Homo sapiens: one gene and its partner. The main gene of each other region encodes a partner of the protein of the gene in region 2 in a complex. Each region holds a gene or a part of one and is shown on either strand. Other genes may lie near its edges. A codon is read from its position in the direction of its gene.

Region 1 (6,147 bases), on a different chromosome or scaffold from region 2:
CACCAGAGAGGCCGGACTCTGACCATGGTGTCCCTGGGCTGTGGCTTTGTGGTAAGTTCTCCCCTCAACAGGGCTTCAGTGGACTCAACAGTGGTCTTAGTTCTTTGCCATCCTTTGGCTTCCCTTGGACTCTCACACCTAAGCCAACCTGCCGCCCTCTTTTTTCTTAGTGTCCACTTCCCCTATTCTGATACTTGGGGCAGGGAGCTTAGTGAGGTAGAGGCCTAGGGCTCCCTCACTGCAGCCTGCTGCTATCTGGGGTTTACTTCCAGGGCCCTGTGGTAGGAGGCTGGTACAAGGTTTTGGATCGGTTCATCCCTGGCACCACCAAAGTGGATGCACTGAAGAAGATGTTGTTGGATCAGGTGAGCAGGAGAACAGAGTGGGGAGGGTGAGCTGTGTTGGGGGTAGGTGGGGATTTCAGCACTCATAGGACTTTAATTTCTCTTCCCTAGGGGGGCTTTGCCCCGTGTTTTCTAGGCTGCTTTCTCCCACTGGTAGGGGCACTTAATGGACTGTCAGCCCAGGACAACTGGGCCAAACTACAGCGGGTGAGCTGGGCAGGTGTGGAGAATGTCTCTGGCTGGCGGGCTGACAGCCCAGGGGAAGAAGACAGGTTTTACAGGGATAAAAAAGGGGGTAAGTGCAGGTAGGGCCCCAGGCCATGGAGGAGAGGAGCTGAGGGTTATGGTGCAGGAATGTGCTCTTTGAACCCAAGTCTGTGTGTGACATTCATACTGGGAAGTGGGAGCTGCTTGGAGGCGCAAGTGTTAATTTGTTCCTTCTCTGTCTCCCCAGGATTATCCTGATGCCCTTATCACCAACTACTATGTAAGAGCTGACACCTCAACTGCTTGTTCTCCTGCTTCCTTAAGTCTAGAACTGTCCTGGGATTGGGGGGTCCTCCTGACATGGGAAACCCTTCCGTTGGGATTACTCTTTCATTCCCAGGATGGGCACCATAAATAGGGAAGCCATCACCCAACTGTTCACCTTTTTCTTGTGTGCAGAAGTTGGGGTAGGGCCAGGCAAGACAGTGAGTCTGGGGTCAGGTGGTGGGGCAGCCATCCAACCTTTACATTTTCTCTTGCAGCTATGGCCTGCTGTGCAGTTAGCCAACTTCTACCTGGTCCCCCTTCATTACAGGTATGTTGCACCCCTACCCCACCCATCAAGGAAGACCCACGTTACCAACAGTTGGAGACAAAATGATTCTCATTTCAACCTTGAGCTACCTTAGACCCCCAAACGGAACACTGAGCCGTGATCAGAGTTCCTCAGATTCCCAAGCGTGTTATTCAGAATGTCTTGCCATTTCCGGAAACTGTCCCAGAGTGTCTGCCCACTGACCTTCTTCATCTCCCTAGGGAGGATCCTGCTTCTACCACCCTTGTCTCCATCCCACCTGAGCTCCGTCTTTGATGGCATATCTGGAGGGACAGTGGCTGGGGTGCTGCAGCCTAGGTTAGACAGAGAGGTAGACCAGAAGGCCAAGTAGGAGCCTGGTCAGACACTCACAATAAAGACAGTTGCTGAACTGCACCCAAAAAGATAGTGGCACTGAAGATGTGTGGTTCAAATGCTTGAAGGTGAAGGATCGTGGGAACAGGGGAAAATATGGAACGCTTCAGAGGGAACAGGGCCAAAATGTACATGAGTAGCATAGCTAAAACGAATACAGACTGGCTGGGCACGGTGGCTCACACCTGTAATTCTAGCACTTTGGGAGGCTGAGGCAAGAGGTTTGCTTGAGTCCAGGAGTTTCACACCAGCCTGGGCAATATAGTGAGACCTCATCTCTACAGAAAATACAAAAAATTAGCCAGTCACATGGTAACATGTGCCCGTAGTCCCAGCTACTCGGGAGGCTGAGGTGGGAGGATCACTTGAGCCTGTGAGATGGAGGTTGCTGTGAACTGAGATTGTGCCACTGCATTTCAGCCTGGTGACAGAGTGAGACGACCCTGTCTCCAAAAAAAAAAAAAAAAAAAAAAAAAAAAAAGGCTGGACACAGTGGCTCACGCCTGTAATCCCAACACTTTGGGAGGCTGAGGCAGGTGGATCACAAGGTCAGGAATTCGAGACCAGCCTGGCCAATATGTTGAAACCCTGTCTCTACTAAAAATACAAAAATTAGCTGGGTGTGGTGGCAGGTGCCTGTAGTCCCAGCTACTCGGGAGGCTGAGGGAGGAGAATCGCTTGAACCTGGGAGGCGGAGGTTGCAGTGAGCCAAGATCTTGCCACCGCACTCCAGCCTGGGCAACAGAGCGAGACTCCGTCTCAAAAAAAACCCGAAAAAACAAAAAAGGAATACAGACTTATGAACCAAATCCTAAACATTAGGGTCCTTTGCAACACTCTTTGAAACCAGAGCAAGGTTAATTTAAAACAGAAAGATGCTACTTTATATGATAGTCCGTACATTTCGGAAGATGAAATCTCAGCTGGTACAAGACAGATCAATGAACTTAGAAGGGGCCCAGATAGGGGCCCTTTCTGTGATTAACAGAGCTATGCATGGCAAGAGAGCCGCTGAATATTTAGCCTTTGAGGCTCTCAGCCAGGAAACAGAGCTCTGGGATGGCACTAGAATTTGAGCCAGTTGTCCTTTAGTGCAAGCCACACAGGCCCTTCATAGGGTGCTGAAAGGGCTGGGTGTCGTGGCTCACACCTGTAATCCCAGCACTTTGGGAGGCCGAGGTGGGTGGCTCACTTGAGGTCAGGAGTTCGAGACCAGCCTGGCCAACATGGTGAAACCCTGTCTCTCCTAAAAATACAAAAATTAGCCAGGTGTGGTGGAGCACACCTGTAGTCCCAGCTACTTGGGAGGCTGAGGCACGAGAATTGATTGAACCCGGGAGGCAGTGAGCCAAGATTGTGCTACTGCACTCCAGCCTGGGCAACAGAGGAGACTCCATCTCAAAAAAAAGGTGCTGAAGGAAAGAGACCTAAACCTGCCAATCCTTTGTCATGATCCCTCCTTTGCCATTTCATGCTCCCATCTCCAGCCCTTGCTCACTGCTTAGCCTTCCTCCTCTTCATTGTGTTATTCCTGTTCCTTAGGTTGGCCGTTGTCCAATGTGTTGCTGTTATCTGGAACTCCTACCTGTCCTGGAAGGCACATCGGCTCTAAGCCTGCCTCACTCCATCGTTTCCACCTTGCAGTGATGCAGCTTGACCCTGGAACGGTCAGACAACCTCCTCAAAGTGGGCATACCAGTTTCCACGGGGTTGGGTTGCCGGTCAGAGCTTAAGAGGACTAGCACCCTGCAATGCCCCTCTTCACTCTAAAATGTACACTGACTGCTTTAGAGCCCTTGATAATAGTCTTATTCCCACCACATACTAGGCACTCCATAAATATCTGTTGAACCTTCATGACCTTATCAACTTTACACCCATATCCCAGCAAATGCCACTCATCCCCACTCTTCATAGACACATTTGTTACTCTAACCCTGCCTAGGCTTCTTGTAGCTCCAGCTCTTTAGAGACTCCCGGAACCCTTTATATGGTGCCTCAGTAAATATGTTATTAAATATGTAATCCGGAATCTGCAGTGGTAATGAGTAAGTTTTTAAGCAGAAAACTATTGGGGAGTCATTTCTAGAGCTGGAAAGAAGCCAAGAGACCACCAAGCCCAATTTTTTTTTTTTTTTTTTTTTTTTTTTTTGAGACAGGGTCTTGCTCTGTCTCCCAGGCTGGAGTGCAGTGGCGCGATCTTGCCTCACTGCAGCTTCCGCCTCCTGGGTTCAAGCAGTTCTCCTGCCTCAGCCTCCTGAGTAGCTGGGACCACAGGCGCATACCGCCACGCCCGGCTAATTTTTGTATTTTTAGTAGAGATGGGGTTTCGCCATATTGGCCAGGCTGGTTTCAAACTACTGACCTCGTGATCCGCCTGCCTCGGCCTCCCAAAGTGTTGGGATTACAGGCGTGAGCCACCGCGCCTGGCCAAGCCCAGTCTTACAAATGAGGACCCTGAGGTTGGTAGGAGGGAGGTGACCTGTCCACACCAGGAGTTAGCAGAAACTTGAACCCATATTTCTTTGCTGCTCATGGGCAGAGTTACACTGCTGCTATGATTCCCAGGAGAGAAACTGAACTTTGCTAAACTACTTTGGCAAACTCAAAAGCAGATGGGCCAGCCATTTGTGGTCTGAAAGCACTCGGATGCTAGAGACCCTCTGTTACATGGTGCCTGTCAGACAGCCCTACAATTTGGATCCTGGGGCTGGAAAAAGATAAGAATGCTGGGAGACTTTGGTTGTGGCAGACTGCCTCTCAGTGGGTCCCACTGTGTTGGCTGAGTGCCAGCGGTGGACTCCTGATGCCTGCATTTGCAGAACTGATAGCTGCAGGGAGGCAGTGGGTTCCAGCGGCACAGCGTTCTCACATTTCTGGCCACTTCTAGAGGCAGAGGACGGGGTCAGCACCATGGACAGCCTCACGGTCCCGCCTCCCTTTCGTGTGTCAGAACACGCGACCCGGACTAGTCTGGTCTGGGGACGGCCCTAGTCATTGCTGGCTGTTCTAAGCGGGGCGAGGGACTCCCGTGGGTCCCAGAGCAGTCTTTACGCCCCAGCCGGCTTCTCGCTTTCCTGCGTCCAGTGCTGCTTCCAGCGCTAGCCCCAGGGGCACGAAGGCTGGTGTAGGGAGGTGCGCCCCTCCGGGGGCCCGCCAGCCGTCAGACTCGAAGCTGTGGCTGTCATTGCTTCTACAATCAGTGCATGTTCTTCGCTGACGTCAGTCGGAGCTGTCCTGGCACTATATAAGGCTGGCGACAGCCCCGGGACAGACCCTGTGTTCCCCAAGGCGTCTTCAGCCTGCCCCGAGGGACAGAGACTGGAGCTCAATCTTGGACCGTACAGACGCTCGCCGACAACCTGTGAGTGGCTCAGAGCGTCCGCCCAGCCTCCCCCTGCACCAGGACTCCGCTCAGCTCAGCCACCACGCTCCTCCGGGGAGGGAGGCTGGGTGGAAGGGATGGAACAGCACTGGCGCAGTGGCTGGGGCTGGAGGGCAGGCTGCGGGCATTGGGCGGCGGCCGGAGGGGTCGCCGGGCGAGCGCGGGGAGGGGAGCGGCGGCCTGCAGCTGTCCCAGGCGCACCTCACCCTGCGCTGCCCCTGTGTGTCCAGGGCCGGCGGCACCATGAGGCAGGCGGGACGCGCAGCGCTGCTGGCCGCGCTGCTGCTCCTGGTACAGCTGTGCCCTGGGAGCAGCCAGAGGAGCCCCGAGGCGGCCGGGGTCCAGGACCCGAGTCTGCGCTGGAGCCCCGGGGCACGGAACCAGGGTGGCGGGGCCCGCGCGCTCCTCTTGCTGCTGGCGGAGCGCTTCCCGCGCCGCGCGGGGCCCGGCCGATTGGGACTCGGGACGGCAGGCGAGCGGCCGCGGCGGGACAACCCTTCTCTGTCCATTGACCTCACCTTTCACCTGCTGCGGACCCTGCTGGAGCTGGCGCGGACGCAGAGCCAGCGGGAGCGCGCCGAGCAGAACCGCATCATATTCGACTCGGTGGGCAAGTGATGGCCCGGTTTGGGGCTGCGAAAACGTTGACCCCTTTCCCCCACCCCAGAGTTGGGATGCGGGGCAGAGCCACCAGGGCACTGTCTGCGTGACTATTTTTTAATAAAAGTACTGAAGACCCGTTGGCTTTTGTCGTAGAGGCAGGGCAGTCACAGCAGCGTGGGAACCCGTGGGAAGGTGGGGCCCCCGGGCCAGCGGGAGGGGAACAAAATGCTGTGGGGGGCTCCGAGACAGCGGCTTTCAGCCAGGTCAGCCAGGTGCATGTGGACCCCAAGGGTCCCCAAATCCCCAGGACCTCAGAGGTCCCGGCACCACCGCCCCGCCCTCGGCCCTCTTCCCAGGGCGCTGGGCTCACCAGTTCGCTCCTGGCATCACAGAGGTGCCCAATAGGGGTTCATTTGGCTTCCGCCCCCCAGACGGTCTCAGGTTCTGGGAAGGGCAGGATGGTGGGCGGGTCGCCTTCGAAGCCCAGGCTGCGGGGTTGGGCAGCGAAAGGAGATACGGGTCTGGGACGCTCGAGTTCTTTATTGAGATCCTCCCGGGGCCGGCGCCGATTTGGGTGATGCTGCGGTCTCTGCGCAGATCCTCCCCGACTCTAGCGCGGGCTCTCGAGCAGGGTCGGG
Region 2 (7,020 bases):
GGGAGATGACATCTTTCCTAAGGTGTCAAAAAGACCTGGAGAAATGGCAGATGGGCTAAGAACTGAAGATGAGGCCCCCCTCCCAAATGAACTGAAGCACCAAGTCCTAGTCTCATGGCTCAAATTTTGACTGTTCCAATTTGCAGTTGTGTGGCCTTGGGTAAGTTGCTTAACCTCATGAGCTCCTGCTTCCTTGTCTGCCCCCGAGGGGCCTAACCACAGAGCTTGCCTTAGAAGATCAGCATGGGCTGAAATAGTCACAGAGACCACTAAGACCTGTGTCTGGCCTAGTGACTGCCAATCCTTTCCCATGACACCAACAATGACAACACCAGCAAGAAGTCAGGCTTCCTGCAAATTCAACCACCTGATTCACTTCTCAGAACCAGAAATAAGTGAGTGTCTCTTAGCAGCAGAAATGCAGCTGTGAGCTGCTGGGGAGTGTAGGGATGGCAGGAACACCAAACACGTGTCCAACCTCGAGGACAACAGGCAGATGGTGGGGACAAAGCAGGAGACCTGCCTTTGAGCCTCTGCTCTGCTAGCTATTAGTGGTGACCTTGGGCAAGCCACTTCATCTCTCTCAGCTTCTTCCTCTGTAAAATGGAGAGCATAACCCTACTTCTTTTAGGACTTGAGCATGCAAGGGTTGGAAATAATGTAGATAGAGCTTCTGGAAGGGCTCAGCTTGGAATGTGGAAGCCCCTGTTGGTGCAAAGAGCTGGGCCCAAAGGAAAGAAGGAAAGGGCTCGTGAGCACAGACGCAGGGGTGGAGCCAGAGAATGGGTCTGGAAGAGGAAGCATGGAGCTGGGTCTTGACACTGAGCTCTTGCGTTCCTCGCCTCCCTTTCTCTTGGCATTTCCTCACCACCCTTCCAACATCTTTACAGTTGGGGCTTACTCTTTGCCACCATTGGTCCCCCATCCAGGCCAGCCTTCCTTGGCTCAGTTCCAGGCTCATCAAAAGCCTTATTCCTCCAGGATGGCCCTTGGCAGCTGGTTGGGAGGGAAAGGATCTCATGGGGTTTCCATACACACTGAGGGGTGAGTGACTCACTGCAGCTGGGAGTCCAAGGACAATCCTACTAGCTGCTGACAAAACCTGGCTTCTGCCTCTGAAGCGAACCAAGCCCTGACGGTGGAATTTCCAGCAGTGGGTGAAAAACCTTCCTAGTCTTCATCAGTTCACATATATCAAGGACACTCCAAAGATGGAGGTCAAATGAAACCCGAAGTCACAGAAAAAGGAGAGTAAGAAAATAAAAGAGATAAATAATAATTGTCTCCAAGGTAGACAAAAGAAAGCCCCACCAGGCACCTTCTGTGTGCAGGAGGAGATGGCACTCTCGCTGAGTCTCCCAGAAGGAACTGTGGCCCTTTAAGGAAGCTGGTACATACAGGAGCCTGAAATTACTGAGCCTGAAATAAGTCTTACGTAAATGCCAATTTCTTACGGGGCTTTTTTGTATGTCTTTCTTTCTTTATCTCTCTCTCTTTTTTTTAAAGGTATGATATATAATGGGTTCCTTTTGCAGAATGCAGCCTCTACTTGAACTCTCTCTTAATTAAAGCTCATTGTGGATTAAAGATGTGTGGCAATTATACCTTAGATGCAAATACATTTGGCAAAGGGCAGGGAGCTGGACAAGGAACAATTCCTCATTATGCTGCATCCCGGTATTCACCGCTTCAGGCTGGGGGTGGTGGGCTGGACCTGGAGAGGGTCACTGGGGGCTGAGGGGAACGTAGGTCTGGAATGAACAGAAGCCCGCACACTCTTCTCTTGTCACCAGCTGCCTGCTCACCTGGCTTTCTCAGCATTGTACAGTGTCAGACCGGGAGGGCACAGGAAGTCTACCCATCAGATCCTTTCTCCTCCCAGAGAAAGAGCCCTGAGGTCAGCAGAGTGGTGCAGGGCTGCGCCAGGGCATCGAGCATGAGGAAGGGAAGGCCGGGTGGTGCTGGGGCACAGGGTGGCATGGACAGGGTACGGGGGTGGCATATAGAGTGTGTGCGCAGGGCTGCCCATGCCACATCTTTCCCAGCGTCTCTGCCTGGGTGGGCCCTCTTCTGTCCTCTTGGCACCCAGCCCCATCCCAGCCACCGCTGAGGGCTTACCAGGAGCACGAGAATGATGGGGCCTTGGTAGATGTAGTCCACCAGGTCGCCAGGCTCCTTGCCAAACCAGCACCTGTGAAGATGGGGTGGCTGTAGGGGGCCTCCTGAGCTGGAACTGGGGGACCCCCACAGACTTGGGCCCAGGGTCCTCCAGCTTTACCCTTCCTGAGACCCAATCTCCAGGACTGCCCCTTCCCAGAAAGCCTTGGTGGAAATACCAGCTCCACTGACCACCCTTACCCACCAGGCTGTCTTTTGCTCTACATGGTGGGTCTGATCTCCCCAGCCCGACTGAGGACAGGCCATGGGTCTCTTTCTCCTCCTCTTTTACCTGCCCCATTGCAGACTGCTAGGCATAGGACTGGGCATGCAGGAGGCACAGGAATAAAGGGAGAGCTGGGCTCCCCCTTGCTGGCCCAGGGCCAATTGCCTTAGGCCACCTGTTCCCATATTGCTTGAAACCCGCTGTTCCGTGTGCCAGGCACTCACTCGGCCACACAAAGCAGCAGATGTGGAAGTGGAGCCTTCCTACCTCCAGCCTGGGATTTTGCGTCTTTGAGCCAATGCTTGTGCACCCAGTGAGGGGAGCTGCTGCCTGGCTGGCCTCACTGGCTGCCAGAGGCATAATTCATTCTCCGGGGATGCTGGTCAGGGGAAATGCTTTAGGGTCTGGGTCGGCCAGCAACTACTGGACCACAGGGAGGGGCCATCAACTTTGGGGAACTCATTCCTCTGAAATCTTGGAGGTCATCCAGTGCAGACCTGCCTCAGATAGGATTCTCCCTGTCTCCCAGGGTTTCTGGCCTCTGCTTGGAGCCCTCCTTTGACAGGAAGCTCACCACCTACCAAGGCAGCCCTCTTCTTGGGCAGCTTTTACTCTTACAAGCTCTTCCTAATGTTGAGCTCCTGGAACTCTACTCCATTCTTGCCCCCACTCTGAGAACAGATCCCCTCTGCTCTCTCCAGGCTCTGAGACAGACCCCTTGGAGATTTGCATACAGGCTAATGTTCCCTGGTCCCCGCTGCTCTCAGCTGGTGACACCTGACTTTCTGGCTGCTCCTTGGCTGACCCATGGCCAGAGTTGCTGTCATTTGGGCTGTGGCTCAGCATATTACAGCCTCTGGCATAGGGAGAACCTCAGGATGGGACACTGCACCCAGGCAGAGACTGAGACTTCAGAAAAAAAAACAAGCTCTGTTAAATGCTCATGGACTCTTTAAATGCTCATGGACAGCTCTGGATGTCATGTGCGGCCTTGGCCCCTTCCACATACCCCGGGCCAGAGCTGCCACATCCAAGTCTGAGGAGGCCTTACAAAGACCAAAGGGGTCATGCGTTGGGTCGGGGGGCACTTCAAGGAACCACAATTCCTAACTTAATTCAGCAAAGTTCCTTGAGCCCTACCATGTGAGTACCTCTGAGTGCAGGACTATTTTTTTCAATTTAAGGACAACAGGAACGTGGATCTGTCTAGGTGTGGCTACAATTCCTGCTCCACGGCTTGGCCAGAGCCCAAGGCTGACCTGTCCTAACACCCCCATTCCCTTCCCCATGACCCCCCATGGCTGGCCCATCCACTTACTGTTCATTCTCATAGTAGAGCTTGCCGATGGCCCAGGCGACGATGATGGGGAAGGGGATGCCTGAAAGAAGGAAAGACTTGGGCTGCAGGGGACAGATGGACAGGGACTTTCTTGTAGGACATACCGTGGGGTACCACAACAGGGCTAGGATCATGTTTTTACTCTTCCAACAGCAGGCCACCCACAACCCCAGGGGTGCCCTGTCCCTCAACACCTGGCCCATGCCCCTGCCCCTCTCTCCAAGCAGGGCTGCGTGATTTTGTGATAGAGAAGTAGAGCCAGCCAGTTTCTGAGCCAGAGACAAAGGCCTTTGGACAGGTCCTTCCTGGCAGGGGGAGAAGAGCTATTTGAGGAATATCCTTTGGAGAGATCCTTTGCTTGTTCCTCACCAGCATGGAGGGAAGTAGCTGCATCCACCGGACTGCGCTGGGGGTGGAGGGCAGGGCCAGGCTCTGGTCCTTGGACCCAAGACGAAGGGAAATGGCCTGGTGAGAAGTCCTCCCCCCAACTAGGCCCTGCTGCCCCTGGGACCCTCACACCATCCGATGAAGAGGAAGAGGCACTTGCGCAGGCGCTCAGTGGAGTAGGTCATGACAATGGCCGTGTGCAGGTAGCAGCCTTCCACAAACATCCAGAAGAAGTTGGTCACCACGAAGTAGTTGAAGATGGTGGTGATGCAGCGGCACCAGACCTGTGTGCAGGGCAGAGAGGCTGTCAGGAGGCAGCTTGGGGCCCAGGTAGGACATACCCATCCCCAGGCAGGGCAACAAGACACAGGGCTCCCCAAAGGGGGTTCGTGGACATGCCATCAAATACCAGCGAACCTCACTCTGAAAAGCTTCATCCTTCTCCAGTGCTCTTTCACACTTTCAGATTAAGTTAAGGTGCCATTCTCCACTGGGGCCAACGTGTTTTTTTTAACTTCTCTCTAACTCTTTCTAATTTTTCATTCTAGTAAAGAGAGCAAGAGTCTGGCTCTGAGCTTTCTGTAGGCAGAGGCTGGAATTCAACCATCTTGTTGTGTTTTCATTTTAGTTTTTTTGAGTCATTTTCAATCCATAGCAAGTCAGACCTGCTTCCTTTTGGGGATGGGATATGGAATTTCATTTAGAAAAAAATGAAAAAATAAAAGTGAGTAAAGTGAGTCAAGGGTGTATGAAGTGGGGCTGCGGCCAGGGAGGGGATTCTCCAAAGACTCTGGGTTTGGGAACTTCTGGACTTGGCACAATTATTACTAGCTCTGGAGGGAGACTTGCAAAGTACACGGCCCCCGGCAAGTCACTGCACCTCTCTGAACCTCAAAAAGTAACCCTGCCTTCCAGGGTGGTTGAAGGAGATAGAGGATGGCAAAGACAGGCATGAGGGTAGCTGTGTTGTGGCTGTGGTTGTGCCTGCTGTGGTTCCGTGCCTTCCCAGCAGAGGGGAATGTGTCCCTGTCCCTCTGAGCAAGGCCACCCTTCCCCAGGCACCAAGGCTACCTTCCCAAAGGAGGCAGGGAGGGGAAGACCCTGCCCCTTTAGAGCCACGCAGTGGGCCATGGCAGGGCCAGGGTCTAGACATTGGGCTTCCAGGCCAGAGCTCCTCTCAACAGACCCCACCTGGTCATCTTCCCCACAGGCTCATCCCCAGGGCACCCTGAGAGCCAAGGCTGGGACATGGGGAATGATGGAGCCAGCTCAAGGTCCGGGGAGCTGTGCGTCAGGGGCTCTGCTTCTGCACACAGCCCATCCTCTCTGTCTGGCTCTGACAGCCCCAGTTCTCAGATAACCCTCCTGTGCTGAGCTGTTGGCTGCTTCTGGGCTTCCCTGCACAGTCCCTGTGGCTGGCTGTCTCCTTTTTTCTGAGAAAGTCCTGCTGAGGTGGGAAGCTACCAAGCCCCTCCTCCCAACCCTACTTTTCATCCAGGGTTGATGATGTTCTATTAGCACAAGCCCACGTTGGAGCTAGAAGGCACCCTCAACTCGAGTGAACCTGTTTGATTCTGAGGCAGTGTTCTATGTGGGACCATGTTAAGGATCACACCAGGCTGGTGTCTGCTCAGGCACAGGCCACCCAAAGGAAATGTACTGAGAAGTCTCTGTCGGTGTGCCACAGGGCTCTGTGATGGCCCAAGACTAGTCTACAGTTTTACAATAGCTTGGACACAGTACACAGCAATGGACAGAAATCCAGAGTGGACAGTTAGCATGTGGGATAGCCCCTTATGTAGAGGTATCATCACTGCATGTGACCTTGGCGAGTCACTTAACCTCTGTGAGTCTCAGTTTCCATGTCTATGTAATGGGGAAAATGATCCCTGCTGGTCTCATTAGGATTAAGTGAGAGAAAGCTCAACAGAGGTTAGTTCTAGCTTCCTTTTCTCAAAGGGGTCTTTGAGGGCACCTGAATCCACAAGATGAGGAGTGGACTAGGATAAATGTGTCTAGAGTCAGCTTTGTGAAGCTCCCAGCCTGGCAGCTTCCTGCTCCTCCCAGCCCAGCTCTGTTGGGACAATGGCTAGGGTGGAGGTGAGCTCAGGTCTGGTTTTGCACCTGAGCCACAGCCCAGATGACAGCATTCTGGCCATGGGTCAGCCAAGGAGCAGCCAGAAAGTCAGTTGTCACCAGCTGAGAGTAGCAGGGACTGGTGAACATCAGTCTCTGTGTGCAAATCTCCAAGGGGTCTGTCTCAGAGCCTGGAGAGAGCAGAGGGGATCTGTTCTCAGAGTGGGGGCAAGAATGGGGTGGAGTTGCAGAAGTTCAACATTAGGAAGAGCTTGTAAGAGTAAAAGCTGCTCAAGAAGAAGAGGGCTGCTTTAGCAGGTAGTGAGCTTCCTGACAAAGGAGGGGTCCAAGCAGAGACCAGACAGACAGATGGGTGCCCCCGGAGCCCAGAGCCCCCCAGGTATAGCCCCGAGTCTCCCCGAGCAATGACCTCATTGCTCTCGTGCACTTCATGGTCAACGAGCTGCAGCAGGAACCACATGACATTTCGCAGGATAAAGGTGGTGATGAGGTTCCAGTGAATCACATTCCGCAGACAGCGAATGCTCCTGTGGGAGGTGCAGGTCAGGGGTCAGCCAGGTTCAGGGGTCAACTGGGACTGGGTTCCCCCTGAGGCCAGGTAGAGACTCAGCCTGGGATGAGGGCAGGGCTGCACTAGGAGCCACTTCCCACCCATGGTGGCCACAGTTGGGCCTCTGAGTCCAGCTCCCACTCTGCACCCCACATGCCTGCTGGTGATTCATGCCCTGGCACCCCACCCAAACCCCACTTTCTCCACGGGCCCTTTTATCTGCTGGGCCCCAGAATGGAGGTGAGAATGTCTGGGAGAGGTGAA

The links. The genes of interacting proteins can lie anywhere in the genome.
Region 1: the proteins of CRHR2 (region 2) and UCN are in contact, whole or in part, in a cryo-EM structure (PDB 7TS0), measured with the Homo sapiens proteins. Residues at the interface, in NP_001874.2 of Homo sapiens: Phe68, Asn69, Gly70, Val71, Tyr73, Ile101, Leu102, Asp103, Asp104, Arg107, Asp110, Tyr113, Leu117, Asn120, Trp166 (codon at 6,663), Leu169 (codon at 6,654), Gln170 (codon at 6,651), Val172 (codon at 6,645), Asp173 (codon at 6,642), His174 (codon at 6,639), His177 (codon at 6,630), Glu178 (codon at 6,627), Thr188 (codon at 4,375), Phe191 (codon at 4,366), Asn192 (codon at 4,363), Phe199 (codon at 4,342), Phe256 (codon at 2,184), Gly257 (codon at 2,181), Lys258 (codon at 2,178), Asp265 (codon at 2,157); in NP_003344.1 of Homo sapiens: Asn84 (codon at 5,399), Pro85 (codon at 5,402), Ser86 (codon at 5,405), Leu87 (codon at 5,408), Ser88 (codon at 5,411), Ile89 (codon at 5,414), Asp90 (codon at 5,417), Leu91 (codon at 5,420), Thr92 (codon at 5,423), Phe93 (codon at 5,426), His94 (codon at 5,429), Leu95 (codon at 5,432), Leu96 (codon at 5,435), Arg97 (codon at 5,438), Thr98 (codon at 5,441), Leu99 (codon at 5,444), Leu100 (codon at 5,447), Leu102 (codon at 5,453), Arg104 (codon at 5,459), Thr105 (codon at 5,462), Ser107 (codon at 5,468), Gln108 (codon at 5,471), Arg111 (codon at 5,480), Ala112 (codon at 5,483), Asn115 (codon at 5,492), Phe119 (codon at 5,504).

Annotation. Positions count from the first base shown.
Region 1 is NC_000002.12:27,306,898-27,313,044, reverse strand, and holds UCN (urocortin preproprotein), read left to right. Parts: upstream 1-4,599; 5' UTR 4,600-4,885; intron 4,886-5,136; 5' UTR 5,137-5,149; coding exon 5,150-5,524; 3' UTR 5,525-5,645; downstream 5,646-6,147. Other genes in the region: mitochondrial inner membrane protein Mpv17, read left to right, coding at 1-51, 273-365, 456-551, 799-831, 1,094-1,146, 3,064-3,133. UniProt on the Homo sapiens protein: Acts in vitro to stimulate the secretion of adrenocorticotropic hormone (ACTH). Binds with high affinity to CRF receptor types 1, 2-alpha, and 2-beta. Plays a role in the establishment of normal hearing thresholds.
Region 2 is NC_000007.14:30,658,455-30,665,474, forward strand, and holds part of CRHR2 (corticotropin-releasing factor receptor 2), read right to left. Parts: intron 6,734-7,020; coding exon 6,616-6,733; intron 4,394-6,615; coding exon 4,240-4,393; intron 3,763-4,239; coding exon 3,702-3,762; intron 2,192-3,701; coding exon 2,119-2,191; intron 1,588-2,118; exon of another isoform or gene 1-1,587. UniProt on the Homo sapiens protein: G-protein coupled receptor for CRH (corticotropin-releasing factor), UCN (urocortin), UCN2 and UCN3. Has high affinity for UCN.